Linked DNA regions of Homo sapiens: regions 2, 3, 4, 5 and 6 are each reported to be linked to region 1. The links are microRNA targets in miRTarBase. Many come from high-throughput screens and were not tested one by one. Region 1 holds a microRNA gene; each other region holds the end of a gene's coding sequence.

Region 1 (5,075 bases):
GTCAATGTAATCCACCATATTAACAAAACGAAAGAGAAGACAAATATGTAATCATTTCATAAGCAGAAACATTATTTCCCTAAGTTCAACTGCCATTTATGATAATGGTGAAATATTGTCCTCTTTTATTATCAAGAACAAGCTAAAAATGTTTACTGTCACCACTTCTGTTCAACATTGTACTGGAGGTCCTAGGCAGTAAAATAAAACAAAATGAAATAATAGGCATAAAGATTGAAAATTAAGAAGTAAAACTCCCTTTGTGTATAAATGACATCATTGTTTGCAAAGAGAATCCTGAGGAATTTATGTAAAAATAGCAAGGTCACAGAATACAAGATCAATCTGAAAAAATCAATTATATTTCGATTTACTACCAGCAAAAAAAAAGTTTAAAAACCAATTTTATTTATAATGATATCTAGAACATTAAATACTTAGAAATAAGGTTAACAAAAGGTATTTAATAACTCTATGCAGAAAACTATGAATTTAGAAGACCTAAATACATGGAGAGGCATTTCATGTTCATAAGTTGAAAAACCCAATGCTTTTATAATATACAGTCTCCTCAGATTGATCTATAGATTCAATGCAATCTGACTGATAATTAGGTCAAGTTTTCAGAGAAACTGACATATTGATTCTGACATTTATATGGAAATACTAAGGTCCTAGGATCTCTAAATTAATACTGACAAGACAGAATATGAGGACTTCCACAACCTGAGTTTGAGGCTCCAGTAGCCAAGCTAATGTACACAAAGCAAGTTTATGCAAATACATGAATAAAACACAACAGGCAGCCTAGACCTAGACTCACACCTATAAGGTTACTTAATGACTGACAAAGCCACCGAAGCTCCAATGGGAAAAGTAAGCGCTTTTCTAGAAATGATGCTGGAAAAATAGATATCCATATGGGGAAGAAAATGAATCTCAATTCCTATCTCAACTCATGCACAAAATTAATTCAATATGGATGATAGACCTAAACATAATACAGCTAAAATTATAGTAGTCCCCCTTTAACCACAGTTTTGCTTTCCATGGTTTCAGTTACCCTCAGCCAACCAAAGGGACATGTGGCTCATCATCCACTCACATCCAAAAAACTAAAAGAGAAATTTTAGAAATAAATAATTCATCCCTTTTTAAAAAAATTTTTTTGAGACAGAATCTCACTCTGTCACCCAGGCTGGAGTGCAATGGCGCAGTCTTGGCTCACTGCAGCCTTGGTCTCTCAGGCTCAAGCAATCCTCCAACCTCAGCCCCCTGAGTATCTGGGACTATAGACATGCACCACCACGCCTGGTTAATTTTTGTATTTTTTGTAAAGATAGGAGTTCGCCATGTTGCCCAGGCTGGTCTTGAACTCCCGGGCTCAAGTGGTCTACTCACATCAGCCTCCCAAAGTGCTGGGATTACTGGTGTGAGCCACTGCACCTGGCCAACTCATACGTTTTAAATTGTGTGCTGTTCTGAGTAGCATGATGAAATCTCAGGCCATCTGTCCCGTCCCTCCTAGGATGTGAATCATCCCTTTGTCTCGTGGATCTACACTGTAGATGCTACCTGCCTATGGGTCATTTAGTAGCCATCTGGGTTATCAGATCAACTGCCGTGACATCACAGTGCTGATGTTCAAGTAACCCTTATTTTAGTTCGTAATGGCCCCAGTGTGCAAGAATAGTGGTGCTGGCATATCATTATAATTGTCTGTTTTATTATAATTTGCTGTAATCTCTTCCTGTGCCTAATTTATAAATTAAACTTTATAATAATATAATATTATATATAATATAATATAATTTATAAATTAAACTTTATAATAATACATATAGGAAAACAACACAGTATATATACAGTTCTTTAGTATCCATGGTTTCAGGTATCCACTGGGGGGTCTTGGAATATGTCCCCAGCAGATAAGCAGGGTATACTATATAGAACTGTCAGGAGAAAAATATTTGAAACCTGAGAATAGGCAAAGATTTCATAGGTCACAATTATAATGATATGCCAGCATCACTTGTCCATGACAAGGTGCTTTACAGAGGCCATTGTCTCCTTTTAGCTAGGCAGTGAAAAGCACATTACAAGTAAAGAAAACAGCAGTTTTCTTAGACTGTTTACTTTGCAATAAAGGAATACCTGAAACTGGGTAATTTATAAAGAACAGGGGTTTATTTGGCTCATGCTTCTGCAGCCTATACAGGAAGCATAGGGCCTCAGAAGCTTCCAATCATGGCAGCAGGTGAAGGGGAGCCAGTATATCACGTAGTGAGAGAGGGAGCAAGAGAGAGAAGGAAGTCTCAGGCTCTTTTAAATAACCAGATCTTGGGCGAATTGGTAGAGCAAGAACTCCCTCATTACTGCAAGGATGGCACCAGGCCACTCAAGAGGGATCCACCCCTGTGATGCAAACACCTCCCACTAGGCCCACCTCCAACATTGGGGTTGCCATTCCAACGTGAGATTTGTAGGGCACAAGTATCCAAACTATATCAATGTCCTCTGAGTGTGTGTGTGTGCACGCGTGAACTCATGGGGTTTCTTATTCTCATAAATTCTGGCAGTCCTCTATTAATTACTTACTTCAGACACAAATTATAACCAGATATGGGACAATATAGTTACTAGGGAAAAAAGTTTACTTTCTAAAAAGAATTGGCATATTCTTTGGTTAATTAAGAGGAGAAAGTATCCAGAACCCTTTTCCAGTTCTCTTTGCAGAAGCGTATAATTGCTTTAAGGGTCTTTCTGGCGAAAAGTGATTAGAGGATACATTCCGCCAAGCACCAGGCTGCTCCCTCGGCATGTCCCCCACTTCTGCTGATGCACTAACGTGTCTCAAATCAGTTGCCAATTGGCAGGTGAATCCTATAAAACTGCAAACCTCTGGTGGAGAAACATTATATAAAAGGAATGTAATTGCAGGAAGCTTTCCACCTGCCCCATTCTAGAGGCATCGCAAAGCAGATTTTGTCTAAAGGCTTACCAGAAAGTGAGAGGGCTCCAAAAGGACTTAGAAGGCCCATCAAGCACAACCTGGCATTGTTCATCCCTAATAATTATATGTGCAGAGTTTTATAGTAGCTCTTCTCCTAGTGGTTCTTTTCATCAGCCTTGTCAATGGAGTGAGAATAAACCTCCCTTCCTGTCTGCCACCCCACCCCACCCCCACTGTGAAGCACCTGGGTTTTGTGTGGGGTTGACTCCCCCGTGCATCCCAGCATCAGCCCGGGCCTGACCAGTCTAGCCCAATCAGGGCATCCCCCACTCCCCTTGCTGTGGTATTTTGTTCAGGGATGAACTCCTGCAGAGAGAGTATGTCTTCATCAGAGACAACTGGCAGGCCTGCCCTGCCGAGGAAAGCCAGCCTGAAGACAAAGCCCACACAGGGCAAGAGAAACTAAGAGAAGTTAAGACAGAACCAGAACCCTGATCAAACCACACCTGGAGCCCACCAAGCATTTGTGTCGCAAAAACTTAGTGAATCCCATCTAATGTTCAAACCTGTGCATTGGATTAGGTTTTTAGTACCCTGCACCCAAAACCTCCTCACTAAAATACTACATATCCTCTGAAATATTAAACAAAAGAGAATGGAAACTACCAACTACTCATGTAATGAGTTTTAGAAATCCTGGCCTTGAAAGATGTTGTGTTCAGGAACGACTATATAACCAACATAGGTTGTATATTTTCATGGGGCAATGACACCTCTAATAATTCACGCATCATTTTCTACTCACGCACTGCTTACTTCTATAAGGATTTCACATGGCTTACAACAAAATACCTATATATTAGGATAATAAAATAAGAGTTAATTATCCAGGGGAAAAGATGGATATATCAGAAAACATCAGTGAAGTATAACTCTTAGGTTGGAACATACAATTTAGCTCCGAGCATTCTGTCAGCCAAGGTTAAAATTATTACAGGTTGAGTATCCCTACTCTGGAAAGCTGAAATCTGAAATGCTCTAAAATCCAAAACTTTTTAAGTACCAACATGATGCTCAAAAGAGACGCTCATTGGAGCATTTCCAATTTTAGATTTTTTGACTTAGGGATGCTGAACAACTAAATGTAATGCAAATATTCCAAAATCTGAAAAATATTGAAATCTGCAACACTTCTGGTTTCAAGCATTTCAGATAAGGGATACTCAACTCAACCTGTATCTTACTATCTGAAAAAGAAAAATATCTATGTTTGCTGGGAGGTATGACGCTTTTTCCTAGCAGTAGTAAGTAAGCTCTAGAGCAGCTGTAGTCAGTTTGGGAAGTTTAGGCCCTTGAATGCTGACATTAGCTGAACCACTTTAGCTTATCTGTATTTAGAGCATCACCAAAAGTGTTGACATTAATCTATGTACTGGCAGTGTTAGAATGTTATCAGATTCTGGCAGAGAAATGTTTACATCAGCACTTGCAAGAAAGTAGGGCGGGGTGCAGTGAGTTTTTCAAGGAAGTACAATGTGATCCCAGCCCCACAGGGTTGTTGTCAGCAGCAGCAGGAGGGCACACTGAGGGCTTGAACTCTGCAGCCCCTCTGTACCCTGAGGACAAACAGGGTAGGGAGGTGGAGAAGCAGAGAGATGAAAAAGGAGGAGGGAAACCATGTGGGGGAGTCCTCAGAAGGGCAGCTAAGCTGCAAAACCCTAAAGTATGCAACTGGAAAGGGAAGGGGTACTTCATTGAGCATGTGCTGGCACAGAAGAGAAATACAGAAACACCGAGAAGTCTTGCCCACCTTAAAAGATAAAAGGGAGATTTGCACACAGTTTAAACAAGGAGAGCATTGTTGGATAACCATAGCTAATCTTTACTGATCACAACACTCCATAAGGTAAGCACTATTATTACCCCTGTTACACTGACAAGAAAAGTAATGTTTATGTGCCCAAAATCTCATGGCTAATCAGTGATGGAGCTAGGGACCTGATCCCAGGTAGTCCAGCTCCAAAGCCAGCTGCTCACTTCTGGTGACTATGACCATCCCATCTACCCTGCTCTGACTGGAGCTGCAACTGTGGGAGACAGTTTCATGTGAGCTGTGACAGCA
Region 2 (5,075 bases), not on the chromosome of region 1:
GTCTCGGCTCACCGCAACCTCCGCCTCTCGGGTTTGAGCGATTCTCCTGGCTCAGCCCCCCTAGTAGCTGGGATTACAGGCGCCTGCCACAATGCCCGGCTAATTTTTATATTTTTAGTAGAGACAGGATTTCACCAGGTTTTCCAGGTTGGTCTTGAACGTCTGACCTTAGGTGATCTGCCCACCTCGGCCTCCCAAAGTGCTGGGATTACAGGCATGAGCCACCGTGCCTGGCAGAACTGGTTCTTTGAAAAGATAATAAAACTGACAAAGCTCTAGGAAGACTGACAAAGAAAACAGAGAGGACACAAATTACCAATATCAGGAATGAAACAGGGGATGTCAAGTTGACCTTTCTTCAACTTGACAAAGAATATCTACGAAAACCCTACAGCTGGCATTATACTTAACAGTGAAAGACTGAATATTTTTCCCCTAAGATCATAACAAGGCAAAGATGTCTGTTCTCACTATTGTTATTCAACACAGTGCTGCATCTTCTAGTCAGTTAATAAGGCAAGAAAATGGGGAAAAATACAGATAGAAATAACACTATTTATATTTGCAGATAACATAATTGTCTACATAGAAACCCCCAACAAAACAACTCCTAGAATAAATGAATTCAGCAAGATAGCAGGATGTAAGATCACACAAAAATAAACTGTATTTCTATGTATTAGCAATGAATATGGGCACCAAAATTAAAAATATCACTTGTAGGCCAGGTGCAGTGGCTCATGCCTGTAATCCCAACACTTTGGGAGGCCAAAGTGGGCAGATCACGAGGTCAGGAGTTTGAGACCAGCCTAGCCAATATAGTGAAACCCCATCTCTACTAAAAGTACAAAAAAATTTGCCGGGCATGGTGGCAGGCACCTGTAATCCCAGCTACTTGGGAGGCTGAGGCAGGAGAATCGCTTGAACCCAAGGAGGCAGAGGTTGCGGTCAGCCGAGATGGCGTCACTGCACTCCAGCCCAGGCACCAGTGCAAGACTCCATCTCAAAAAAAAAAAAAAAAAAAAAAAAAATTACTTGTAATTCCCCCACCCCAAATACTTACAAATAAATCTAACACGTGCAAGATTTGTATGCTGAAAACTACACAACACTGATAAAAGAAATCAAAGATCTGGCTGGGCGCAGTAGCTAAGGCCTGTAATCCCAGCACTTTGGGAGGCCAAGGCGGGCGGATCACCTGAGGTCAGGAGTTTGAGACCAGCCTGGCCAACATGGCGAAACCCTGTCTCTTCTATAAATAAAAAAATTAGCCGGGCGTGGTGGTGTGTGCCTGTAATCCCAGCTACTCGGGAGGCTGAGGCAGGAGAATTGCGTGAATCCAGGAGGCAGTAGTTGCAGTGAGCTGAGGTCGCAAAATTGCACTCCAGCCTGGGTGACAAGAGCAAAACTGTCTAAAAAAATAAAAATAAAATAATAAAAAAATCAAAGATCTATACAGCCATGTGCTGCGTAATGACATTTTGGTCAATAATGGTTTGGTCAATAACGGATCACATATACAATGGTGGTCCCATAAGATTATGACTATACCGTATGGCCTTGGTGTGCAGCAGGCTCTACCATCCAGGTTTGTGTAAGTACACCCTGTGATATTCACACAAAATGAAATCACCTAATGAGGAATTTCTCAGAATGTATTCCTGTCATTATTGACATGACTGTACATTTTTTTTTTGTAGAGAAGGATAGAATTATCCTAAATTCTATATGGAAAGGCAAAGGAACTAGAATAGTGAAAATAATTTTGAAAAACAGAAAAGGGGGAGAATCATTCTACTCAAATTCAAGGCTTATTATATAGCTGCAGTAATCAAGACCATGTGGTTCCAGCAAAAATATCAACAGAGATCAATAGAACACAATAGAGAGCCCAGTAATAGACCCACACTAATATGCTCAATTGAATTCTGGCAAAGATGCAAAAGTATTTCAATAGAGGAAGAACAGTCTTTTCAACAAGGCGCTAGAGCAAGTCGATATCCATAGGCAAGAAAATAAACTTGGAATTAAACCTCACACTTTATACACTCAAAATGGATCACATACTAAATGTAAAATGTAAAACTCTACAAAACCTTTAAAAAATATATAGAACCTCTTCAGGATCTAAGGCTAGACAAAGGTCTTGGACTTCACACCAAAAGCATGATCCATGGAAGGAAAAATTGATGAACTGGATTTCAACAAAATAAAAAACTTGAGCTCTGCAAAAGGCTGTTAGGACAAAAACACAAGCTACAGACTAGGCAAAAATATTTGCAAACCACATTATCTGAGAAAGGCTGAGTTTCTACAATATATAAAAGAACTCTTGGCCAGGTGCGGTGGCTCACGCCTGTAATCCCTGTACTTTGGGAGGCCGAGGCGGGTGGATCACTAAAGATCAGGAGTTCGAGACCAGGCTGGCTAACATGGTAAAACCCCACCTCTACTAAAAATACAAAAATTAGCTGGGTATGGTGGCACGCACCTGTAATCCCAGTTACTCAAGAGGCTGGGGCAGGAGAATCGCTTGAACCTGGGAGGTGGAGGTTGCAGTGAGCCGAGATCACGCCACTGCACTCCAGCCTGGGTGGGTGACAGAGTAAGACTCCGTTTCAAAAAAAAACAAAAACAAAAAACTCTCAAAATTCAACAGCAAAAAAGAAAAAATATATAATGTGAACATGGGCAAAAGACTTTTCACCAATTATGATACACAGATGGCAAATAAGCACATGGAAAGATGATTAACATCATTAGCTATCAGAGTAATGTAAGTTATAACCGCAATAAGGTATCACTACACTCTTACCAGAATGGCTAAGACTAACATCAAATGCTGGAAAGATGCAGAGAAACTGTATCACTCAAACATTACTGGTAGAAATGTAAAACCATACAGCTATTCTGGAAAACTTTGGAATTCCTGGGCATTTATCCAAGAGAAATGAAGACTCTAGTTCACATAAAAACCTGTACACAAATGTTTACAGCAACTTTATTTAGATACCTAATAACAGGAAACATTCCTGACGTCCTTCCACAGGTGTTTACTATGGTACATCTATACTGACATCCCACTCAGTACTAAAAACAGAACTATTGATGCAACAAGCTGGATCAATGCCCAGAGATTATGCTGAGTGAAAAGCCAATCCCAAAAGAAAGTATAATCCAATCAATTTTGGCAAAATTAGAGATGGAGAACAGACCGCTGGTGCCAGAGGTTATGAAGGTGGGCATAGCTATACGAGCACAAGAGGAAACTGAATATGGCTTATGACAACAGATGGGATCATTGTGATAGAAATGTTCTGTATCTTGATTATATCATTTCTATCCTATCTTGGCTTGGTTGTGATATTGCCCTTGTTTTGCAAGATGTTATCATTGGGAAAACCGGGTGGAATCTCTGTATTATTTCTTACAAGTGTATATTTCTCACAATGATCTCAAAATTTTTGAGTTGAATTGAGAAAAAAAAAAGCCAACGACCTACATTTATGCTAATAGCTTATGAAATAAGCTAACAAAGGAGTAGACTGATATTAAGCACACAATTTGGTTCATTTCCTAGACAATTTATTCCTATGGAGTGGCAATTCCAGTGCCCGTTCTTATTCTGCCTAATCAGAAGTGATTCTCCTGATGGTCTCAGGTATCTAGTATCTGCCTGGCTAATTCAAACCTATGGATCCCCAATAATGTCTTTTTCTTTCTTTCTTTTTTTTAAGACAGGGTCTGGCTCTGTTGTCCAGGCTGGAGTATAGTGGTGCAGTCGCAGCTCACCGTAACTTCCACATCCTGGGCTCAAGCCATCCTTCCCACCTCCGCCTCTTGAGTAGCTGGGAGCATGTCACCACATCTAGCTAATTTTTTGGGAGAGACAGTCTCCCTATGTTGCCCATGCTGGTCTCAAACTCCTTGGCTCAAGCTACCAGCTACTCGGGAGGCTGAGGCAGGAGAATAGCCTGAACCCAGGAGACGGAGGTTGCAGTGAGCTAAGATCGCGCCACTGCACTCCAGCCTGGGCAACAGAGCAAGACTCCGTCTCAAAAAAAAAAGAAAAAAAGAAAAGATCATTTTCCCGTCCTTAAATTATTTTGTACATCTACTACTTGGAAGCAAAGTAGTTTAAAGTCTGGCAATCTCTCTATAATCTTAGGTACGTGGTCCTACACTTAAGCATATGTTTGTTTCATAGATATGTATAATTATATATGTATAATCTTTTAAGTTTGTCTGGTTGGTATGAAAATCTAAAATTACTACTTACCATTTGAAGAAGCCAAAGGCAGTTCTTAAATTCTTTCCCATTTAAGAGAAAATTTTGAATAATGACTCCTTCATCCAAATCTGATAAAGAATGTGTTCAATATTTTATATTATTTTACAGTATATTTTGAGAAAGATCTTTATTTGCTTTGTACAAAGTAAAAATTACATGACACATTAACATATTATATATCAACATGATACATAATTCATAAAACACTGTCTGCCAAAAGTAATTTTACCAGTTTTTTTTTTTTTTTTAAAAAAAACCATCTAAAAGTGGTTTTTTAATATATATATTTTTTCCAAAGGAAGAAATTTCTTGCTTTTACTCAGGGAAAAAAAAAAAATTAAGGTACATTTGAGTAGAATGATTTCATCTAAAAGAGTTCTTTCAGGAGACATCTGTGATTCACTGCATTGTTTTTATTTTCTTCTTTTTCCTCTTCTTTTCCAACATTTCTACCATTTTCCTCTTCTTGGTTGATATCAGGCCACTTTCTTTTGTTGCTTTCTTACTGTCACCTGTTAAACCGCGTTTCTTTGTGTTAGGTTTTGACCGCTTTTCTTCTTTGTGCACTGTGTCACCAGGCTCCTTTTTGCCAATTTTGGACTGTTCTTTACTTACTAAAACACAAAAGAGAGTGCTTTTAAAAAAAGACTGTTTTCCCCTTTGAATGAAATAAACACAAGCTGTCAATAAAGTGAAATTATCTGGATCTCCTCCACTTCTACAATTTAAGAGATAATAGATTATTCAAAATTTCAAAACAATCAAATTCGATTACCAGGAGAAG
Region 3 (5,075 bases), not on the chromosome of region 1:
TGTTGCCTAGGCTGGAGTGCAGTAGCGCAATCTTGGCTCACTGCAACCTCTGCCTCTCACGTTCAAGCGATTCCCGTCTCAGCCTCCCAAGTAGCTGGGAATACAGGTGTGCACCACCATGCCTGGCTCATTTTTTTGTATTTTTAGTAGAGATGGGGTCTCACCATATTGGTCAGACTGGTCTTGAACTCGTGGCCTCAGGTGATCCACCTGCCTCGGCCTCCCAAAGTATTGGGATTACAGGTGTGAGCCACCATGCCCAGCCATCTATTTTTTAATGGACTTCTGATAATCTTTTATTTAGGAATATTTATAAGTGATAATGGTTGTCTAAGAGGTAGTAGAGCATGGTGATTGACAGCATGGGCTTTGGAGTCAGACTACCTGGGTACAAATCCAGTTTCACCCCTATTAGTTGTGTAATCCATAATGTGTTTTTTTAGTTTCTTCTGTAAAATAATAGGTTGTTATGAGAACTAAATGAAATAATATATGTAAAACACTGAGGGAAGTACTAGGTTACTTAATAGGCTAATAGGCATTCAACCAAGATAGCTGTTATACTTAATGTAAGTTTATTTTTTACATTATTGGCTGTATAATAGACTACAAGAATAGAAAACAAACACTTGAAAATGAAAACAAGAACACCAACCTCGATTTTTTTTTTGAGATGGAGTCTTGCTCTGTGGCCCAGGCTGGAGTGCTGTGGTGCGATCCCGGCTCACTGCAAGCTCCGCCTCCCGGGTTCACGCCATTCTCCTGCCTCAGCCTCCCCAGTAGCTGGGACTACAGGCACCCACCACTGCGCCTGGCTAATTTTTTTTAGTAGAGACGGGGTTTCACCATGGTCTCGATCTCCTGACCTCGTGATCCGCCCACCTCGGCCTCCCAAAGTGCTGGGATTACAGGCGTGAGCCACCATGCCTGGCCCAACTTCTTGATTTTATGACAAGATAGAAACTACAACTAAAAACAGCTAGAAAATGATGAAAATGAAAAAACACATGGTTGACCAAGCTGACTTTAGAGGAAAGTTCATAGCCTTAAGCACTTCCATTAAAAGAATGAAAATATATGCAACACACATTCAATACTAGAGTTAACTTCTATTTTCTTTTTTTTTTTTTTTTTTGAGACGGAGTTTCACTCTTGTCGCCCAGGCTGGAGTGCAATGGCACGATCTTGGCTCACTGCAACCTCTGCCTCCTGGGTTCAAGTGATTCTCCTGCCTTAGCCTCCTGAGTAGCTGGAATTACAGGCACCCACCACCACACCTGGCTCATTTTTTTTGTATTTTTAGTAGAGATGGGGTTTCACCATGTTGGCCAGGCTGGTCTTGAATTCTTGACCTTGTGATCCGCCTGCCTTAGCCTCCCAAAGTGTTGGGATTATAGGCGTGAGCTACCGTCCCCAGCCTATTTTCTCTCTTTTTTGAAACGGAGTTTCTCTCTTGTTGCCCAGACTAGAGTGCAATTGCACGATCTCAGCTCACTGCAACCACAGCCTTTGGGGTTCAAGCTATTCTCCCGTCTCAGCCTCCCGAGTAGCTGGTATTACAGGCATGTGCCACCACGCCCGGCTAATTTTATAGTTTTAGTAGAGACGGGGTTTCTCCATGTTAGTCAGGCTGGTCTTGAACTCCCGACCTCAAGTGATCTGCCCGCCTCGGCCTCCCAAAGTACTGTGATTACAAGTGTGAGCCACTGCGCCAGGCCTGTTTTCTCTTTTTTAAGGTGGAAATCAATAAATTAGGGCCGGGCATGGTGGCTTATGCCTGTAATCCCAGCACTTTGGGAGGCCAAGGTGGGTGGATCACCTGAGGTCAGGAGTTCGAGACCAGCCTGGCCAACATGGTGAAACCCCATCTCTACTAAAAATACAAAAAAATGAGCCAGGCGTGGTGGTGGGCACCTGTAATCCCATATACTTGGGAAGCTGAGGCAGGAGAATCACTTGAACCCGCGAGGTGGAGGTTGCAGTGAGCCAATATCACGCCACCGTACACTCCAGCCTGGGCAACAGAGCGAGACTCCGTCTTAAAAAATGAAAGAAAGAAAGTAAAACAGGTATATAGAAGATACTGAGAATATTTTCTACAACTCTAGGCAAATGCATTTGAAAGAAAGCCTCAATGAAATAGATGTTCTCCTAGAAAAAGTACAAGTTATCAAAATTGATGAGAGGGTAAGGGAGAAACAGCTGGAGAAAAGTGCCAGAGAAATAGTCTTTAAAAAAAAAAAAAAGGCCGGGCGCGGTGGCTCACGCCTGTAATCCCAGCACTTTGGGAGGCCGAGGCGGGCGGATCACGAGGTCAGGAGATCGAGACCACGGTGAAACCCCGTCTCTACTAAAAATACAAAAAATTAGCCGGGCACAGTGGCGGGCGCCTGTAGTCCCAGCTACTCGGGAGGCTGAGGCAGGAGAATGGCGTGAACCCGGAAGGCGGAGCTTGCAGTGAGCGGAGATCGCGCCACAGCACTCCCGCCTGGGCGACAGAGCGAGACTCCGTCTCAAAAAAAAAAAAAAAAAAAAAAAAAATTCCAGGCCTAGATATATATACCACTTAATTCTTTCAAATCTTTGAATATCACATTTTCTTTGTTATTTAAACTTTTCTGGCTGGGCGTGGTGGCTTATGCCATAATCCCAGCACTTTGGGAGGCCCAGGTGGGCGTATTACCTGACGTCAGGAGTTCAAGACCAGCCTGGCTAACATGGTGAAACCCCATCTCTACTAAAAATACAAAAATTAGCCAGGCGTGGTGGCGTGCGCCTGTCATCCCAGCTACTTGGGAGGCTGAGGCAGGACAATCACTTGAACCTGGGAGGCGGAGGTTGCAGTGAGCCGAGATCATACCATTGCACTCCAGTCTGGGCAACAAGAGCAAAACTCCATCTCAAAACAAAAACAAAACTTTTTTGAAGTATAAAGAAATAGTCTTTTCTTTGCAGGTTACTTAAATATAGTTATATTTTCATAACATGGCTTAATAATTTATTGTGCCATCCAGCTGAGATGTATAAATCAAAACCACAGCAGTGATTTTAACGTTTAAACAGGACAGTCTACAAAAAAGGAAATACAAATGGCTCAAACAAATAAACAGATACCTAACTTCATTCTTGTTTGTTTTAAAGAGATAAGGTCTCACTCTGTTGCCTAGACTCTGGAGCATAGTGGTGCAATCATGGCTCACTGCAGCCTCAAATTTCTGGGCTTAAGCAATCCTCCTGCCTCAGCCTCCCAAGTAGCTGGGACTTCGGGTGTGCAGTACCACACTTCACTAATTTAAAAAAAAAAAAATTGTAGTGATGAGGTCTTACTATGTTGCCAACCTCATCTTGAACTCGTGGCCTCAAGCGATCTTCCTTCCTGTGTAGGCCCTCAAAGGGCTGAGATTATAGGTGTGAACCACCACGCCCAGTCCCCAACCTTATTCTTAAGTGAATATACAAAATTCTACTGAGATTAAAACGCCATTTTTAAAGTAAGAGATTAGGAAAGATCAAAACATTTGATAACACTTACAAAGATTTAATAGGCACTCTCATGCATTGTGGGTGGGACTGTAAACTGGCACAATCCTTATAGATGGCAACTTGCCAATATCTATCAAAAGTAAAAATGCACATATCTTAACCTAGTAATTCTAACTTTAGATTTCCAGCTTACAGTAAACTCACTCATGTGCAATGTGACCTATATAAAAGGTTATAAAATGAATCATTATTTATAATAGCAAAAGGTTAGGAAAAAAATGTCAGCAGGGACTGCTCAAATATATTATGGTACATTCATACAATAACATCTGCAATTATAGACCAAGAATCAAGAAACTCTTCATGTAACGACATGGGACAATCTCAAAAATATGTTACACAGAGAAGACAAGCTGAAGAACAGTATACACCGTACAATACCACTTAGGAAAAATACCTCTAGAGGGATATTTAAGGAAAAGATAACACTTTTTGGGAAGAGAAAATGAGTTCTAAAGGAGGGAAGGAGACTTCACTGTTTATCGTTCTGTGTCTTTTGAATTTTGAACAATTTTGAAATGAAAACATCCCAATGGAAATACAAGTCTTTTAGGTAAGTTCAAATGAGCATGTATTATATTTCTTTCATCTGACTGATAAACTTTTCCACAATTTCATTGAGTCTTTCAGGCTCCATTAGTTTATTTACCAACTCCTGCTCAACAGCCATTAGGGCTGGGCCAGTAAGCTTCTCTTGTCCCATGGTATTACATAAATATGTCTTAAGACGAGGCAGGGTAGAAAATGAGTTCTCAGTACTTGCTGAAGTAATTGGCCAAGACAAAGCAATATATAATAGCTTTGAGAGACAAGGAATATTACTGTGAAGACCATGCTGAATAAACAAACAGCCGAGACTGACGAAGTTTATGCAACTATCATCTATGACAAAGTTAAGCTTTGCATAATGTCGATAAAATCTAAGTTCTGGGATAATGTCCTCATCAAGTTTATAAAATTCCTGAACATGTTTTGCTGTTGTTTCATTTAATGGTTCATTCCATTTAAATAACAGTTCTGAAATTTGCTTTATTTTGCAATAATCAAACTCCGAAAAACATAACTTTAAATTTTGTAATATAGTATCTAATCCTTGGTAATAGATATTAATTTTATATTGTTCTTCTGTTGAAGTAGGAAAAAACATATTATCTGAATTGCCAAGATCTACTGATTTCTGAATTTTTCTTCTTTTCTGAAGAGAAGGTTTTTCAACTTTAAAACCTTTACAGGTTATTTTTTGACATATTTCCTCTGTTCCATCCCAGATTGTTTTAAAGTATACGTCATTTCTTTCAGATGATAAACATTCCAAAATTGCTTCTATTTTTGAAGACAAAGAAAAAATGTCTATGGTTTTATTTTGAAGCTCTTTGGAAAGAATTCCTGTAACACTCAGCACTCGATACAGGAATTTCAAACAAAAGACAAATTCAAATTTGGAAACCAATGTCAGCAAATGACTCAATTCATCGGCGAAACTTGTATTTGAAGAATGGCTTGCTATAACTTCCAATGTTTCAATAATCTCT
Region 4 (5,071 bases), not on the chromosome of region 1:
AGAGGCTGAGGCAGGCAGATCACCTGAGGTCAGGAGTTCGAGAACAGCCTGGCCAACATAGTGAAACCCCGTCTCCACTAAAAATACAAAAATTAGCCGGGCGTGGTGGTGGGCGCCTATAATCCCAGCTACCTGGGAGGCTAAGGCAGGGGAATCACTTGAACCCAGGAAGCCGAGGTTGCAGTGAGCTGGGATCACGCCATTGCACTCCAGCCTGGGCAACAGAGCGAGACTCTGCCTCTAAAATAAATAAATAAATAAAGTACAACTTCAGATTGCTGCATGAATAACTATTAATAACAGCACCTGGCCGGGCGCGGTGGCTCACGCCTGTAATGCCAGCACTTTGGGAGGCTGAGGCGGGCGGATCATGAGGTCAGGAGATCGAGACCATCCTGGCTAACCTGGTGAAACCCCCTCTCTACTAAAAACACAAAAAAAAAAATTAACCGGGCGTGGTGGCAGGTGCCTGTAGTCCCAGCTACTCGGGAGGCTGAGGCAGGAGAATGGCGTGAACCCAGGAGGCGGAGCTTGTAGTGAGCCAAGATCACGCCACTGCACTCCAGCCTGGGTGACAGAGCGAGACTCCGTCTCAAAAAATTAAAAAAAAATTTTTTTTTTAAATGACAGCACCTATCCTGGTGGTGACGAGAATTTTGCCATCCTCTAAGCAGACTTCAGTGAGGTGCACTGTCCCAAATGATGATACACCTGCAGAGGAGACGCAGCACGCAGAGTGGAAAGTGTGTGTGTTCCTGGGGCCACCCCTATTCACTCACAGTGGTTAACCTGCACTAACAAGCACTGCCAGGTAGAAACACTTCCTAGTCTACATGTGGACTGTAGCCTGCACAGACCTAGGGGGACTGACCAAAGGGGGGCGAATGAGGGAATAAAAGATAAGATACAAAAGAGTGTATTTGTGCTCACGCACACCCCCTGGCGCAGGCCGACTGTGGCTCTGCCTACAGCGCTTCCTCCTGAGCTGCAGGAGGGCCATGTCTTGTGGTCGTGTTTGCTGCAGCTTTGCCGTCTGGATGGAGCCTGGCACTGAGCTGGTTGAGGCCGTCTGCAGGCCTTTACTGGGCTCTTCCCTTGGAAGCTTCTTACTGATGCCAGGACCTCCCAGCAGGTGACCCTCAGCCCCACAGATCACAGAATTCCACACTCTTAGCTCCTAGAACTTTTCTCCCTCTTGTGTGAGAATGCACAGACCACACACTCTTTCTTTGTTGCAGAGGTTCAGCCACCTTTTCTAACCTGAGACTCTGGGTGACATAACTCCTGATAGGTGATAGCTCTTTGTAACAATCACCAGCACCTTGCCCAGCCAAGGGCCCGGAAGCAAGAAAAAAACAACCAAAACACCATGTCACAGCCAGGAGAGCCTTGCACGCTTCACACACAGCTCAACAAGCCTGGGTTTCCGGTGTCTCAACTCCTGCAGAAATGAAGCCTCAAGTCAGGAAGGGTGAGGAGGGGCACGGACAAGGCCCAACGGCAGCAGGATGGCGCAGAAAGCCTGAGGGACACAAAACCTTCTAGGCCTAGTCGTAGGCAGTGGGGCAGCACCGTGGAGCCACGTGGTAGAGGGATAGCCGCCCTGTGTGTCCAGGGCAAGGTGGCACAGCATGCCTGGACCGCTGAGAAGGAAGGACTTCCCTCAAGAATGTGTCTTGCGCCGGGTGCAGGGGCTCACGCCTGTAATCCCAGCACTTCAGGAGGCCAGGGTGGGTGGATCGCCTGAGCCCAGGAGTTTGAGACCAACCTGGACAACATAGTGAGACCATCTCTACAAACATAAAAATAAATTAGCTAGGCATGGTGGCACATGCCCGGGGTCTCAGTTACTGCAGAGGCTGAGGCAGGAGAATCACTTAAACCCAGGAGTTCAAGGCTGCGGTGAGCTGAGATCACACCACTGCACTCCAGCCTGGATGACAGAACAAGACCCTGTCTTAAAAAACAGACAGACAACAAAAGAATGTGTCTCTGAAAAAGGCCCACGTCTGTGGCTGTTAAACAGAGCAGCTCGTCTCCTGAGGCTGGAGCGATGGAGCTGGAAGGGCCTCACAGCTGTCCGGGCCAGGCTCCTTGCTGCACAGGTGGGATCTGCTGGCTCCAGAGAGTTCTTCAGACCCTGCAAGAGGGATCTGAGAAGAGGGACCAGGCCCCCCGGTTCCCAGGCCCTGACTCTCCCACTGTTTGTCCTTCCCTGATCAGAGCAGATAAACATCACCGTACCATAGATGGGACTTCTAGAAATTCCCCACACAGGACTGGGTTAATTCTAAGGTATTGCTTTAGCTCTGTGAAGAAAATGTAGTCAATTTGTAAAATTGAAGTCAATTTGTAAAATGACTCAATTTGTAAATGAAGTCAATTTGTAAAATATCACAGACTCCTTATTTTTATCCTTATTTTCAGCATCCTCAATGAGTGCAAACTTTCTTGACATGTCTATTTTTGAAAAATCTTTATTGCTTTTCCTGATTGTACAACAAATGTAAAAATTCAAATATTACAAAATGACTTAATTTAAAAAGTACATTTTAACATGTTATAAAATAAATGCCCATTTCAAAAAATTCAAGTATCATAAAATACATGACGTAGAAAATGAGCCCTCTGTAATCTAGCCCAACCCCCGTATCCCCCAGGATTACTGCTGTTCAGATCCGCGTGTTTCCTTCCAGACCGTCTCTGTGCACCCGCCACCCACACGGCTGACATGAGCTCCATATGATCCGAGATGATAGTAACGCTGACCAACGGAGCAGGGTTCAGCTGCCGATGCCCTGAACAGCTTCCAGTTTCTACACAGAAACGCTTTCCTCATAAAAGCCTGAAACTGTGACACAGTTTTGCACTATGTAAATGTATCAGGTTGAATCATGAAATAAATGATCGCTCACCATTTTTGGCCTAGAAAACAGCAGTTTCACGTGGTTCAACGTGATAGCTGTTCAACAGACATTGGGGGGTTTCCTATTTCTTGCCATTATAAACAATTCAGCAGGTCAGGTGCAGTGGCTCATGCCTGTAATCCCAGCACTTTGGGAGACCGAGGCGGGCAGATCACCTGAGGTCAGGAGTTCGAGAACAGCCTGGCCAACATGGTGAAACCCCGTTTCTACTAAACATACAAAAATTAGCTGGCCCTGGTGGTAGGTGCCTGTAATCCCAGCTACTTGGGAGGCTGAGGAAGGAGAACCACTTGAACCTGAGAGGCGGAGGTTGCAGTGAGCCAAGATTGCATCACTGCACTCCAGCCTGAGCGACAGAGTGAGACCCTGTCTCAAACAAACAAAAAAAAAAATCAGCAGTGAATGTCCTTGTATGTTCTTTACGGAGTATAAACATCGTACCCCCAAAGCATGACACCTCTTTTGGGCATTTAGAAGAGTCAAGAGGATGGAGCTGCCCATTTGCCATGGAAAGGGAGACCCAGCAGAGAGCTGATACATAAACAACTTGTCCCTCAAGCAAGGTGGCCAACTTCAGCCATGACACCATTTGAGTATGGTGACCACATTACATGAGCAAACCCAACGCTGGTGAAACCAGAGAACAGAAGAATTCCTCAGCCCAGAGACAATTCTTATCCCTACTGACCCGTATGACCAGGTACTCACAGACATCCAACGAGTACCCCAGAGCTGTCCTCTGGAAGTTGGGCTGTCAGAAGGTATAAGAAATGATTCAGGCTGGGCGCAGTGGCTCACACCTGTCATCCCAGCACTTTGGGAGGCTGAGGTGGGCGGATCACCTGAGGTCAGGAGTTTGAGACCAGCCTGACCAACATGGTGAAACCCCGTCTCTACTAAAAATACAAACATTAGCCGGGCGTGGTGGCACATGCCTGTAATCCCAGCTACTCGGGAGGCTGAGCCGAGATCGCGCCACTACACTCCAGCCTGGGCAACAAAAGTGAAACTCCATCTACAAAACAAAACAAAACAACAAAAAAAACCCCAACAATTCAGAAATGTAATGAAATCAGATTTGGAGGAAACATTTTTTAAGGTTTTTTCCAGGAGCTACTGGAGTGACCAAAAAAACGAAAAACAAAAAAACAAAAAAGGCACCTGTTAAAATGATGCCCACGTCAGGCCTCAAACAAAGACCAGGACGTGGTGTGTACGTGTCACTGGCGTTTCCGCACAGGCTGCTTCCGCTTCAACCTTGTCTGGGGTTTGTAGATTCTGCTTGGGTCACAGTTGAGCTTGTGGGTGGTTTTCTTATGGCAGACAATGTGCACTAGTTTTAGGTTCTCTGAGGTAAAAAGCAGGCCATAAAAATACTCCCAGTCCACTTCTCTTCCATCTTGTTCCTTAATTGCTTCCACCAGTGTAGGAATGATGGTGCGTTTCTTTTCTATTCTGCAAAGTAAGGTTAGAGACATCATTTTCTGTGGTCACAGTGCCACAGGCAACAGGTCATAGCAGTGTATTGCAGTCACAGCTCTTCACAAATTCCCCTAAGTGCTATCACGGACACACGGCCGCACCTACTGGCCAGGTTTGTTGAGCAGAGCCTGATGCAAGCAGCCTGGCTCCTCTTACTTTTTAAAACTTGACTTGTGGCCGGGCACGGCGGCTCACGCCTGTCATCCCAACACTTTGGGAGGCCGAGGCGGGTGGATCACTTGAGGTTGGGAGTTCGAGACCAGCTTGGCCAACATAGTGAAACCCCATCTCTACTAAAAATACAAAAAATTGGCTGGGCTTGGTGGTGGGCACCTGTTATCCCAGCTACTTGGGAGGCTGAGGCAGGAGAATCACTTGAACCCTGGAGGTGGAGGTTGCAGTGAGCCAAGATCACGCCACCGCACTCCAGCCTAGGCAACAAAAGCAAAACACCATCTCAAAAAAAAAAAAAAAAGACTCGTGTCACTGTTCAGAATACTGAAAAGTACGCAGAAAATAAAGGGGGTCAACCACCTTTCCATCACTTACAGTCACCCACCATCAACAACTGGCTTAACTGCCTCCACGTTTCATCTACGTATACATTTACCCCCAAAAAATTACATGATAGAACATGAAAGTTTTACAAACAGAGCCTTACA
Region 5 (5,075 bases), not on the chromosome of region 1:
CTTCCTCTCTCACCATGTGATTTCTGCACATGCAGGCTCCCCTTTGTCTTCTGCCATGAGGGGAAGTAGCCTGAGGCCCTCATCAGTTGCAGATGCTGGGTTTCATGCTTCCTGTACAGCCTGCAGAATCATGAGCCAAATAAACCTCTTTTCTTCATAAATTACCCAGGCTTATGTATCCCTTTATAGCAACACAAATGGACTAAGACAGTACCCTCCCTATGGGGCAGTGTCCAGAGAGAAAAGGCCAGAAGACCAAAGACTGAACCTTGAGTCCTGGGAACAGGATCCAGGAGAAGGGGCAGTCAGAGGTGGGATGCAGCCCAGATGTGGTCATGGTGATCAAGGACGCAGTAGTGAAGGTGGTCAGTGCTGTCCACAGGCATGGTACTTGGCTGTGATCTCCCCAGCCCCACTGAAGCCTATTACAGATGGCTGCAAATTCTTTGACACCTCTCCCACTGAGATGGGGTGGGGGAATCTTTGCTTCCTCCATGTAAATCGGAGTAGGTTCTGTGACTAATGCCCCCCATAGAATAGAATGGAAGTTTAGCTGGGCATGGTAGTGCATGGCTGTAGTCCCAGCTACTCGGGAGGCTGAAGTGGGAGGATCGCTTTAAGCCCAGGAGTTCTCCAGCTGGGGCAAGAGAGTGAGAACCTGTCTCAAAAAAAAAAAAAAAAAAAAAAAAAGGAATAGAATGGAAGTAATGTCATGCCAGTGTCCAGTTCCAGCCTCTGAGAGACTGGCTGTTCTGACCTTTAGAATCTGGGAGCACTCAGTTGTGGAACCCAGCCACCATGTTGTGAAGAAGCCCTGTGCAGTGGTCCAAGTGACCAGGAGTCAAAGCTCCCAGCCAATAGCCAGCACTAACTTGTCAGCAGTGTCATGGAGCCCACTTGAAAGAGGATTCTAATTATGCTGCCCAAGCTGTGGCCACATGGAGGAGAGATATACAGTCCCTGCTGAACCCTGCTCTAATTACAGGTTTGTGAGCAAAACTACTAATTGTTAACTAAATTTTGGGGTGGCTCATTACACAGCAACATCTGGTTTTCTCGGTGGATTCAATCCAATGTGCTTGGGTCTCCCCTCCTAGTGCATGGCAGATGGTGGGGGCCATGGGAACTTCCCTCTCTCACTGCTCTCCCTTAACTTTTGTTCTGGTGGCTGGTGACCTCCACGGGGCTTAGAGATCAACTGTGGTCAGTGATTAGGGTGGCCCTGGGCCTCTATGGGGGTTAGGTATTGGGAAAGGTCACAAAGGGTGGGGCCCATGTAGCCCCCACAAGAACAGAACAGAACAGAACAAGCCCTGGCCTCTCAGCTACCCATTGGCATAGCTTCCATTCCTTCCACTTGCATACAGGGAGACTTGAAAACCAGTGGTGGCGAGACTCCAAGACTATTATTTTTATTTCCGGACAAAAACATCTGCTTCACACAGTGCACGGCATCAAATGAAGAGGAAAGAACTTGTATCCCAAAGCCTGGCTTTCTGTATCATCCACAAATTAAGACAGCATCTGCTGAGCCCATGCTGAGCCTGTCACAGTCAACAACTGGGAAACCGGGGCCTCTACTGAACCAGGGGACAAGTAGCCGAAGCACTTAAACAGCTTGATACTTGTTTTTTGGTACATTTGTTTATTTAAAGCACAGGAAATGAATAAAATGCCACCTAAAAAGTATCTGCAATGAATAAATTATTTCCAGTGAAGCACTGCAGATCCACACACACCAGTCTGCTAACCTTTACCAAGGCCATGTCCGGTGGGCTTGTGCTTGTTCCAGTTGACTCTTCCTTGAGACCTTTCCCTTCTGTGCAATGACCACAGCATTAGAGACCAGTCCTGCATGCGCTGGCCTTCCTCGTAGGCATGGCAGACCACGTGGATGAGCAGTGGGCTGGCATGCAGTAGGCTTCAACAAATGGCACTTCACTGTTTCCAGTGACCCTGAAATGTTTTACGTAAGTGGGGCCTGGGCTTTAAAGAAAAGAGCCAGGGTTCCTCAGGCTGGGCCCCTTCACTGAGGCACAGCTCCAGGAAATACTGGTCTCAGGAGCCAGCAACTTGTCCAGGAGTTTTGAGCCCTCAGTTGAAGGAAAATGGCCACGTGGTGTCCTTGCAGGCAACAGTGATGTCGGTGATGGTGACAAGTAGCCAGCCTAAGGAAGGCCAATCCCACCTTGGGTGGAATGCAGGGCACCTAGTCCTGCTTGGAAGGGGCTGGGAGGTTGGGGAATGTCGAGAATGGAGGGCTAGGGCTCCACACAGTGAATTCAAATAAGGGCTCTTCAGTGAGGGAAGGAAGCCGCAGCCCTCCTTTGGCCCTTTATGCAGGGTCAGCATCTCGGCTCACAAGGCCAAGGGTCACTGGGCAGGAACCAGACTTTCAGAAGGGAAAGGTGCCATAGGCAACGCCAAGGGCATGACTTAAATATCCTATCCTCTGGAAAGTGTTCAAGAGGTCTTGCAGTACACGCCATTTAGGAGACTATAAAATTCCTTTCATTTATGCCATGTGAACAAGTTGAGGCGGTGCATTTCCAAGGTGAATTCATTGAATACAATGAAGTACATTTATTTTTTGAAGGAAGTTTTTGCCGCAGAAATATTGAACTTGGGACTGTGCTGACAAGCTATAACATAATCCCTCTCCTTCCAGATCAGAGCAGGGGTGAGGAAGCAAAAGTCCACAGTTACTGGGCAGGTAATTGGTATAAATGAGGGTGTGGGGCTGGATGCGGTGGCTCACATCTGTAATCCCAGCACTTTGGGAGGCCGAGGCAGGAGGATTGCTTGAGCCCAGGAGGTTGAGACCAGCCTGGGCAACATGGTGAAACCCTGTCTCTACAAAAAATACAAAATTAGCTGGGCATGGTGGTTTGTGCCAGTGATCCCAGCTATTTGGGAGGCTGAGGTGGGAGAATTGCTTGAGCCCAGGAGGCAGAGGTTGCAGTGAGCCGAGATTGCGCCACTGCACTCCAGCCTAGGCAACAGAATGAGATCCTGTCTCACATTAAAAAAAAAAAGAAAAAGAAAAAGAAAAAAAAGAAAAAGGGTAATGTGAGCACACATTGGTCTCATGGTCTACTCACCTGATTAGAGATTAATCCCAGTCTTTCTTTTTCATTACAATAAATGCAACCTGCAGGGGCATTGATCAGTAGAAACAAACACTCAGCCTCATTGTGGGAAGTGATAGGGCGTAGTGTGGGCTGTGGTGACCTGGTGAAGTGGACACCCCTTCTAAAGGCAGAGCTGGTGCCCAGCTCCAGCCAGTTGTTGCTAGGTGAGAATGTGAGCCCCAGCATGGCCAGATCTTCTGATCTGGGTTTTTTTTTAAGTGTTAGAGTCCGCAAGCTAAACAAAACATCCCTGTGCGCCAGATCATTTTGTAGCCTCTCCTGTGGGAGTCAGTGGCAGGAAGGTGTGGTAGGCAGAATAACAGCACCCCAAAGATGTTCTGGTCCTAATCCCCACCTGTGGCTATGTTGTCTTGCATGGCAAAAGGCTCTTCCAGGATGATGAAGGAACTTTAGATGGAGAGATTATCCTGGATCTTCCTGGTGGGCTTTGTAAGTCAAAGAGGGAAGTGGGAGGGCCAGTGTCACAGTGATGCCATGTGAGAAAAGCTTGACCAGCCACTGGAGCCTGGGAATGCAGCCAGCCTCTAGAAGCTTGAAATGGCAAGGAACCGGCTTCTCCCTAGAGCCTTCAGAAGGAGCACAGCTCTGCTGACACCTTGATTTTCATTCAGGGACATCCATTTTGGAATTCTGATCCCCAGGACTATAAGCTAATGTGTTGTTTTTAAGCTACCAAGTAATAGGTTGCAGTGGCAACAGAAAACTAATGCAGGGGGCCACTGTTTGGTATATATTTAAACATTTTTAGAGGATGAGAATATTCTCTAAATTTCTCTTTAAATGTCAAAGTATTGCTGCAGCTAGGAGAACCGCACATGGAAACTTGAGGAAATTTCTCTTATTGCTAGGACTATAGGACAATGGGATTCAAGATGAATTTCCACAATGGGATAACCACGAACCGACCTAGAGAATCAGGAAGTCTCTTATCAAAGCAGATATGTGTCAATGCTGCTCAAACACACACATTCTTTTCTGGTTGGACAGATTGTAAATTATTCCCACCACCTGGGGGACAGGCACACGTTTATCTAGCGGTCAGTAGAAGTCACAACCCAGGCATCCAAACCAGTTAGTATGAGTTATTACTAAGTCAGGTGAAAAGAGCTAGGTGGTTATACATTTGATCTCTTAAATAACACAGGACCACCAAATAAATAATAATAAAAAGGCACATTGTCGTTTTCATCCTGGGGACCCCAGTGAGAGTAGGGACCTCAGGTAGGCTCCTTGGAATTGGAACTGTTGTCCTGAAGAGGGCAAGCCTCTGTTTAACACTCTGAATCCAGGGCTTGCTGCAACCCTATGCTAGGTGACTCAGGCCTCTCTCCTCTCATTACAGGCTGGCTAACCGCACAGCCTAAGTTGAGGAGCACATGAGCTGTCATGACTGTATCCAGATTGGAATTCATCATTTTCAATGTCTTGCCCTTAGAATGAGTCCACTGAGCAATGTGAAGTTGGCGGTGTCCAGGAAAACCTCCTGCTGTTCCTTCTGTATAATTCCTCTTCTTTAGGATTTCTGGTTAGGAACACGGACGGGTGTCTCAGTGCCCTGCTTTATGAAACTCAGCAAAGCGTCTGGAATGGATCAAGTTATTCTGCTGGCTCCATGGGCTCCTGAGTGTTCAGTAAGGGAATGTCTGTGTCCTTGCTGCTTACATCCCCATTGTTGGGATGGGAGAAGGTGTACGGTTCACTCTCAGACTCAGGAGGGGAGCGAGGAGGTGGCTCCTCAGTGGCCAACTTTGCAGTTGGGGCCCTGGAGCATATGGTGGGTGGGGAGGGAGGACAGACCCCCATGGTGCCCTGGAACGGCCGGTAGGTGTCCACCTCTGGCTGCAGGAAGGAGCCGCTGGAATCCTGTAGCAGATGCCCATATACCATGGTGTCCTCGATGACTGCATACACATGGGAGTCATT
Region 6 (5,075 bases), not on the chromosome of region 1:
ATTTTTAGTAGAGATGGGGTTTCGCCATGTTGGCCAGGCTGATCTCGAACTCCTGACCTCAAGTTATCTGCCCACCTCAGCCTCCCAAACTGCTGGGATTACAGGTGTAAGCCACCACACCCGGCCCACACATGTATTTTTATCTACTCAGTATTTAATTAAAAATTACCACTCAAGCACTTAGGAGTTGATAAAGAAAAAAAATTAAATATATATAAAAAATTGCTAGCTGCATCAGCCTGTTTATGGTGGCTGATTTTTTTTTCAAGAGTTGGTGATTTTGGAGGAAATAGTTAACAACATCAGGGGCAGCCTTTGAAACTGACTGCTGTCTTTCAAAATGCCGTCTTCCTCAATATTTGAGAAGATTCCAGTGTGGCCTTTAAGGCAACTGGGTAATTCCCCTTCTCTAGCTAATTGGGGTTACTCTAGGAGCCCTTTCACTTGGAATGTGCAAGATTGTAGAAGCACAACTCTTTGGTTATATTGGACTAGTTATAATAGTGAGTAGATTTCTTTTGTATTCCTATTTTTCTTCCTTATTAATGTATCTTGTTCTCCATTTTTTCTTTTAGACAGAAGATATGTTGTGGGATCATCTATAAAGGCCGTTTTGGGGAAGTCCTCATTGACACACATCTCTTCAAGCCTTGCTGCAGCAATAAGAAAGCAGCTGCTGAGAAGCCAGAGGAGCAGGGGCCAGAGCCTCTGCCCATCTCCACTCAGGAGTGGTGACTGAGGTTTTTATGTAGAAGGGGAACAAAAAAAAAAATATCTGAATTTTGAAAAACCACAAAGCTACAAACTGACCCTCTTTTTTTTTTGAGACGGAGTTTTGCTCTTGTTACCCAGGCTGGAGTGCAGTGGCGTGATCTTGGCTCACTGCAACTTCCGTCTCCCGGGTTCAAGTGATTCTCCTGCCTCAGCCTCCCAAGTAGCTGGGTTTATAGGTGCCCGCCACCAGACCCGGCTAATTTTTTAGTTTTAGTAGAGACGGGGTTTCACCACGTTGGCCAGGCTGGTCTTAAATGACCCTCTTATTTTTAACTTGGATACCTGCTATTCTGCCAAAAGACAATTTCTAGAGTAGTTTTGAATGGGTTGATTTCCCCCACTCCCACAAACTCTGAAGCCAGTGTCTAGCTTACTAAAAAAAGAGTTGTATATAATATTTAAGATGCTGAGTATTTCATAGGAAAGCTGAATGCTGCTGTAAAGTGCTCTTTAAGTCTTTTTTTTTTTTAATCCCCTTCTAATGAATGAAACTAGGGGAATTTCAGGGGACAGAGATGGGATTTGTTGTATGATAAACTGTATGTAGTTTTTAGTCTTTCTGTTTTGAGAAGCAGTGGTTGGGGCATTTTTAAGATGGCTGGCTACTCTTGTTTTCCCTCATGATAATAAATTTGTCATAACTCAGTAACATGAACTTGCCCCTAGAGGTAGTTGTTAATAATTTTGAAATATTAAGGTCTTGCCAAGCTTCTGATGATTCACACCTGTACTACTGATTATTAAGCAGGACAGACTGAGCTTTCTGTTGCAAATACCTTGGAGGAGAAAGTAATTTCTAAATATACAGAGAGGTAACTTGACTATATATGTTGCATCCTGTGCCTCCCTTCATATTAATATTTGATAAAGATTTTAATTTATGTAAAACTTCTAAAGCAGAATCAAAGCTCCTCTTGGGGAAATGGCAAGTCTTTAGGATAGGCAAGACCCTGTATGAATAGTACCAAAGCATTACCGCATGGTAGAGAACACACTCGATTAAAAATGTTAAGCTATCTGAAAAATAAAATGTGCAAGTCTTCAGGATGGCACAAAACAAAGGTTAATGCTTCTTGGGGCACATTTCTTAGAGGGCTTGCTGAGTGTGTAAATATAATCGACTTTTGTTTGTGTTACATGACTTCTGTGACTTCATTGAAAATCTGCACAATTCAGTTTCAGCTCTGGATTACTTCAGTTGACCTTTGTGAAGGTTTTTATCTGTGTAGAATGGGTGTTTGACTTGTTTTAGCCTATTAAATTTTTATTTTCTTTCACTCTGTATTAAAAGTAAAACTTACTAAAAGAAAAGAGGTTTGTGTTCACATTAAATGGTTTTGGTTTGGCTTCTTTTAGTCAGGCTTTCTGAACATTGAGATATCCTGAACTTAGAGCTCTTCAATCCTAAGATTTTCATGAAAAGCCTCTCACTTGAACCCAAACCAGAGTACTCTTACTGCCTCTTTTCTAAATGTTCAGGAAAAGCATTGCCAGTTCAGTCTTTTCAAAATGAGGGAGAAACATTTGCCTGCCTTGTAATAACAAGACTCAGTGCTTATTTTTTAAACTGCATTTTAAAAATTGGATAGTATAATAACAATAAGGAGTAAGCCACCTTTTATAGGCACCCTGTAGTTTTATAGTTCTTAATCTAAACATTTTATATTTCCTTCTTTTGGAAAAAACCTACATGCTACAAGCCACCATATGCACAGACTATACAGTGAGTTGAGTTGGCTCTCCCACAGTCTTTGAGGTGAATTACAAAAGTCCAGCCATTATCATCCTCCTGAGTTATTTGAAATGATTTTTTTTGTACATTTTGGCTGCAGTATTGGTGGTAGAATATACTATAATATGGATCATCTCTACTTCTGTATTTATTTATTTATTACTAGACCTCAACCACAGTCTTCTTTTTCCCCTTCCACCTCTCTTTGCCTGTAGGATGTACTGTATGTAGTCATGCACTTTGTATTAATATATTAGAAATCTACAGATCTGTTTTGTACTTTTTATACTGTTGGATACTTATAATCAAAACTTTTACTAGGGTATTGAATAAATCTAGTCTTACTAGAAAATAAAAGGAGCTGTTTTGTGGCTTTGTTTGACAGGTCTTCAGTAAGAATAATGTTTTTGGCTTTCACATATACTCAGTTTAAGTGCTTAGTATTAATAACAAGCCATGAAGGGAATAAATTCCTCTTCACTGAGACATAGACTTTGGAATAAAAGACATTTTAACTGATGTGCACAATTATTAATCTAGTGGATAAGATGGATTTAAAAGGAAGAACAAAATGTTCCCAGTACTTTTTACTGTCTGTGGTTTTATTACTATCTATGGGCATAGTGGGAAGCATCATTGAGACTTTAGGGAAACTATAAAAGTTGGAAGGGTGGTGGCATCAGGGGTTGGATGCTGGTTCTCAAGTTCCTAGCTCTGCCCCTTGTTAGTCATTTGAGTTAAATAATTAATGGGAATATCTACTTCACAGGATTATGAGGAATCCTAAGAGGTGTAATCCATATCAAACTTTTAGAAACCAGTTGTTTTATTACCTGGGAAAGGTAATAAAGGGCCAGACTTTTTATACTACTGTTAGTATTTAAATTTGGGATAGTCTGGATGCCACCTAATACAGTTACTATGAAATTAACAAGGTAACTAAGGAAGTTGATAGTACCAGTATTATCTATTGCTATGTCCTAAATTACCATAGATTTAGTGGCTTAAAACAAATGCGTCTCAGTTTCTGTCTGAGCATGGTTTAGATAGGTCCTTTAGAAAGCTCATGGTCTCATCTGCATTCTCACCTGGTGATTTGGGAAGAACTCATTTCAGCCTCACTCGGCTGGCAGAATTCAGTTCTTGCCACTGCAGGACTGAGTGTCCAGACCTCTCACTGGTTGTCAGCTGGAGGCCCCCGCTTAGTTCCTTGCCAGCTGGGTGCTCCCTGCATGGCCTGGCTGCTGACTGGACCACTGACATGATTACTGTCACTACCAGCAAGTGTCGAGAGCCAAGCTGCCAGCAAGAGGGGTCTTTTCAGGTCCTGCCCATATCCAAGGGGAGAGGCTCATACGAAGGATTGGATACCAAGAGGTGCGGGTGGGGCTAATGGGAAGGCACCTAGAGTTTGTCACAGCTTTTTTTTTTTTTAACTGAATCTCTTTAAATTGGTCGTCTCGCCCTACAATGCAAATGCTTTGTGTAGCAAGTAAAAAGAAAAATGGCTCTCACAATATGAAAAACCCTGGCTGGGCACTGTGGCTTATATAAACCTGTAATCCCAGCACTTTGGGAGGCCCAGGCGGGTGGATCCCTTGAGGTCAGGAGTTCAAGTCCAACCAGGCCAACATGGTGAAACACCGTCTCTACTAAAAATAAAAAAATTAGCCAGGCATGGTGGCATGCGCCTGTGGTCCCAGCCACTCGAGAGATTGAGGCAGGAGAATTGCTTGAACCTGGGAGGTAGAGGTTGCAGTGAGCTGAGTTGGGCCACTGCACTCCAGTCTGGGTGACAGAGTAAGACTCCACCTCCAAAGAAAAAAAAGAAAAGACCTACTGTTGGGCCAGACACTTTTAAACATTGTTTAAGTAACCCTGCAAAGTAAAAAAAAATCTATTTACCGGTAAGAGGAGGTGCCAGGAGGTCATGTAACTTGAATGAAAGAATCTGCTTTTCTTATTTGAAAGCCTTTGTTCTCTAAACTGTCTCCTGTCTGCTGCAGTAATGCTGTCCTAACCCTCATTGGAAACTATTCCCTGGGTCTCTTCTTGCCTCCCTTCTTTCTGAAGGCTGAAATGAGGGGCAAGTTTAACTTTTGCAGATACGTTGATCTTTAACTTAAATCAAATTCTGTTTTTTAATTTTGATAATGTTCAAAGTACCTATTATCTGTCTTTTTGTGGAGAAAACTGCTGGAGGTTTAGTGAAACGATATCTTAAAACAATTCATCAAGGTGGCTGCTCTGCAGTGAACAATAGAAGGTACCCTGGGAGCTCTTCTATTCAGCGTCCCTAGAACAGTTTCCTAGTGCCCCAGATTTAGCATTGTAGTGGCCAGGCAATCATTTTTGTGTGATGTTCAGTGAACTCGGAAGGGAGGAGAAAGCCAAATTAGATCAAAGATAGATAATTTCACAGGCTCATGTTCTCAAAGAAAGGGATCTGCGGGTTCTGTCTAACAATTTCTCAAGCTGTGGAGTTTGGTTACTCATTGTAGTCATGAGAATGCTTTAGGTATCAAATACCTTACACCCTGGTTAGAAACTGCTTGTTATTGTATGTTGA

What was found. Region 1 holds the annotated microRNA hsa-miR-3929 (GAGGCUGAUGUGAGUAGACCACU, at 1,388-1,410, opposite strand). A microRNA usually pairs through its seed, bases 2 to 8, with sites in the 3' UTR of a target mRNA and lowers its output. Matches are read on the target gene's strand: a 7mer-m8 pairs with bases 2 to 8, a 7mer-A1 pairs with bases 2 to 7 and ends in A, and an 8mer does both.
Region 2: miRTarBase lists PAK1IP1 as a target of hsa-miR-3929. The part of its 3' UTR that is shown has no 7-base or 8-base seed match.
Region 3: miRTarBase lists ZMYM1 as a target of hsa-miR-3929. The part of its 3' UTR that is shown has no 7-base or 8-base seed match.
Region 4: miRTarBase lists DFFB as a target of hsa-miR-3929. Seed matches in the 3' UTR shown: 7mer-m8 at 3,884-3,890, 7mer-m8 at 3,749-3,755 and 7mer-m8 at 3,197-3,203.
Region 5: the mRNA of CDCP1 is a reported target of hsa-miR-3929. Seed matches in the 3' UTR shown: 7mer-m8 at 2,916-2,922.
Region 6: the mRNA of SINHCAF is a reported target of hsa-miR-3929. Seed matches in the 3' UTR shown: 7mer-m8 at 923-929.

What each region holds. Positions count from the first base shown.
Region 1 is chr18:35,932,701-35,937,775 of GRCh38, forward strand. It overlaps MIR3929 (microRNA 3929), which reads right to left and starts at 1,442; the gene lies at 1,388-1,442.
Region 2 is chr6:10,709,068-10,714,142 of GRCh38, reverse strand. It overlaps PAK1IP1 (PAK1 interacting protein 1), which reads right to left. Exons shown (of 10, transcript NM_017906.3): 9 at 5,067-5,075; 10 at 4,361-4,905. The coding sequence ends at 4,691. Among named protein-coding and RNA genes, the nearest start is that of TMEM14C, 11 kb to the left of the region's middle.
Region 3 is chr1:35,114,302-35,119,376 of GRCh38, reverse strand. ZMYM1 (zinc finger MYM-type containing 1) reads right to left here. Exons shown (of 10, transcript NM_024772.5): 10 at 3,518-5,075. The coding sequence ends at 4,118. Among named protein-coding and RNA genes, the nearest start is that of ZMYM1, 37 kb to the right of the region's middle.
Region 4 is chr1:3,882,818-3,887,888 of GRCh38, reverse strand. DFFB (DNA fragmentation factor subunit beta) reads right to left here. Exons shown (of 7, transcript NM_004402.4): 7 at 2,460-4,382. The coding sequence ends at 4,148. Among named protein-coding and RNA genes, the nearest start is that of C1orf174, 15 kb to the left of the region's middle.
Region 5 is chr3:45,080,890-45,085,964 of GRCh38, forward strand. It overlaps CDCP1 (CUB domain containing protein 1), which reads right to left. Exons shown (of 9, transcript NM_022842.5): 9 at 1,388-5,075. The coding sequence ends at 4,749. It overlaps LOC124906233 (a long non-coding RNA gene), which reads left to right. Exons shown (of 3, transcript XR_007095898.1): 2 at 764-985; 3 at 1,368-1,686. Among named protein-coding and RNA genes, the nearest start is that of CLEC3B, 57 kb to the left of the region's middle.
Region 6 is chr12:31,278,372-31,283,446 of GRCh38, reverse strand. SINHCAF (SIN3-HDAC complex associated factor) reads left to right here. Exons shown (of 6, transcript NM_001135812.2): 6 at 576-2,863. The coding sequence ends at 735. Among named protein-coding and RNA genes, the nearest start is that of FLJ13224, 43 kb to the left of the region's middle. RefSeq lists a silencer at 4,198-4,492.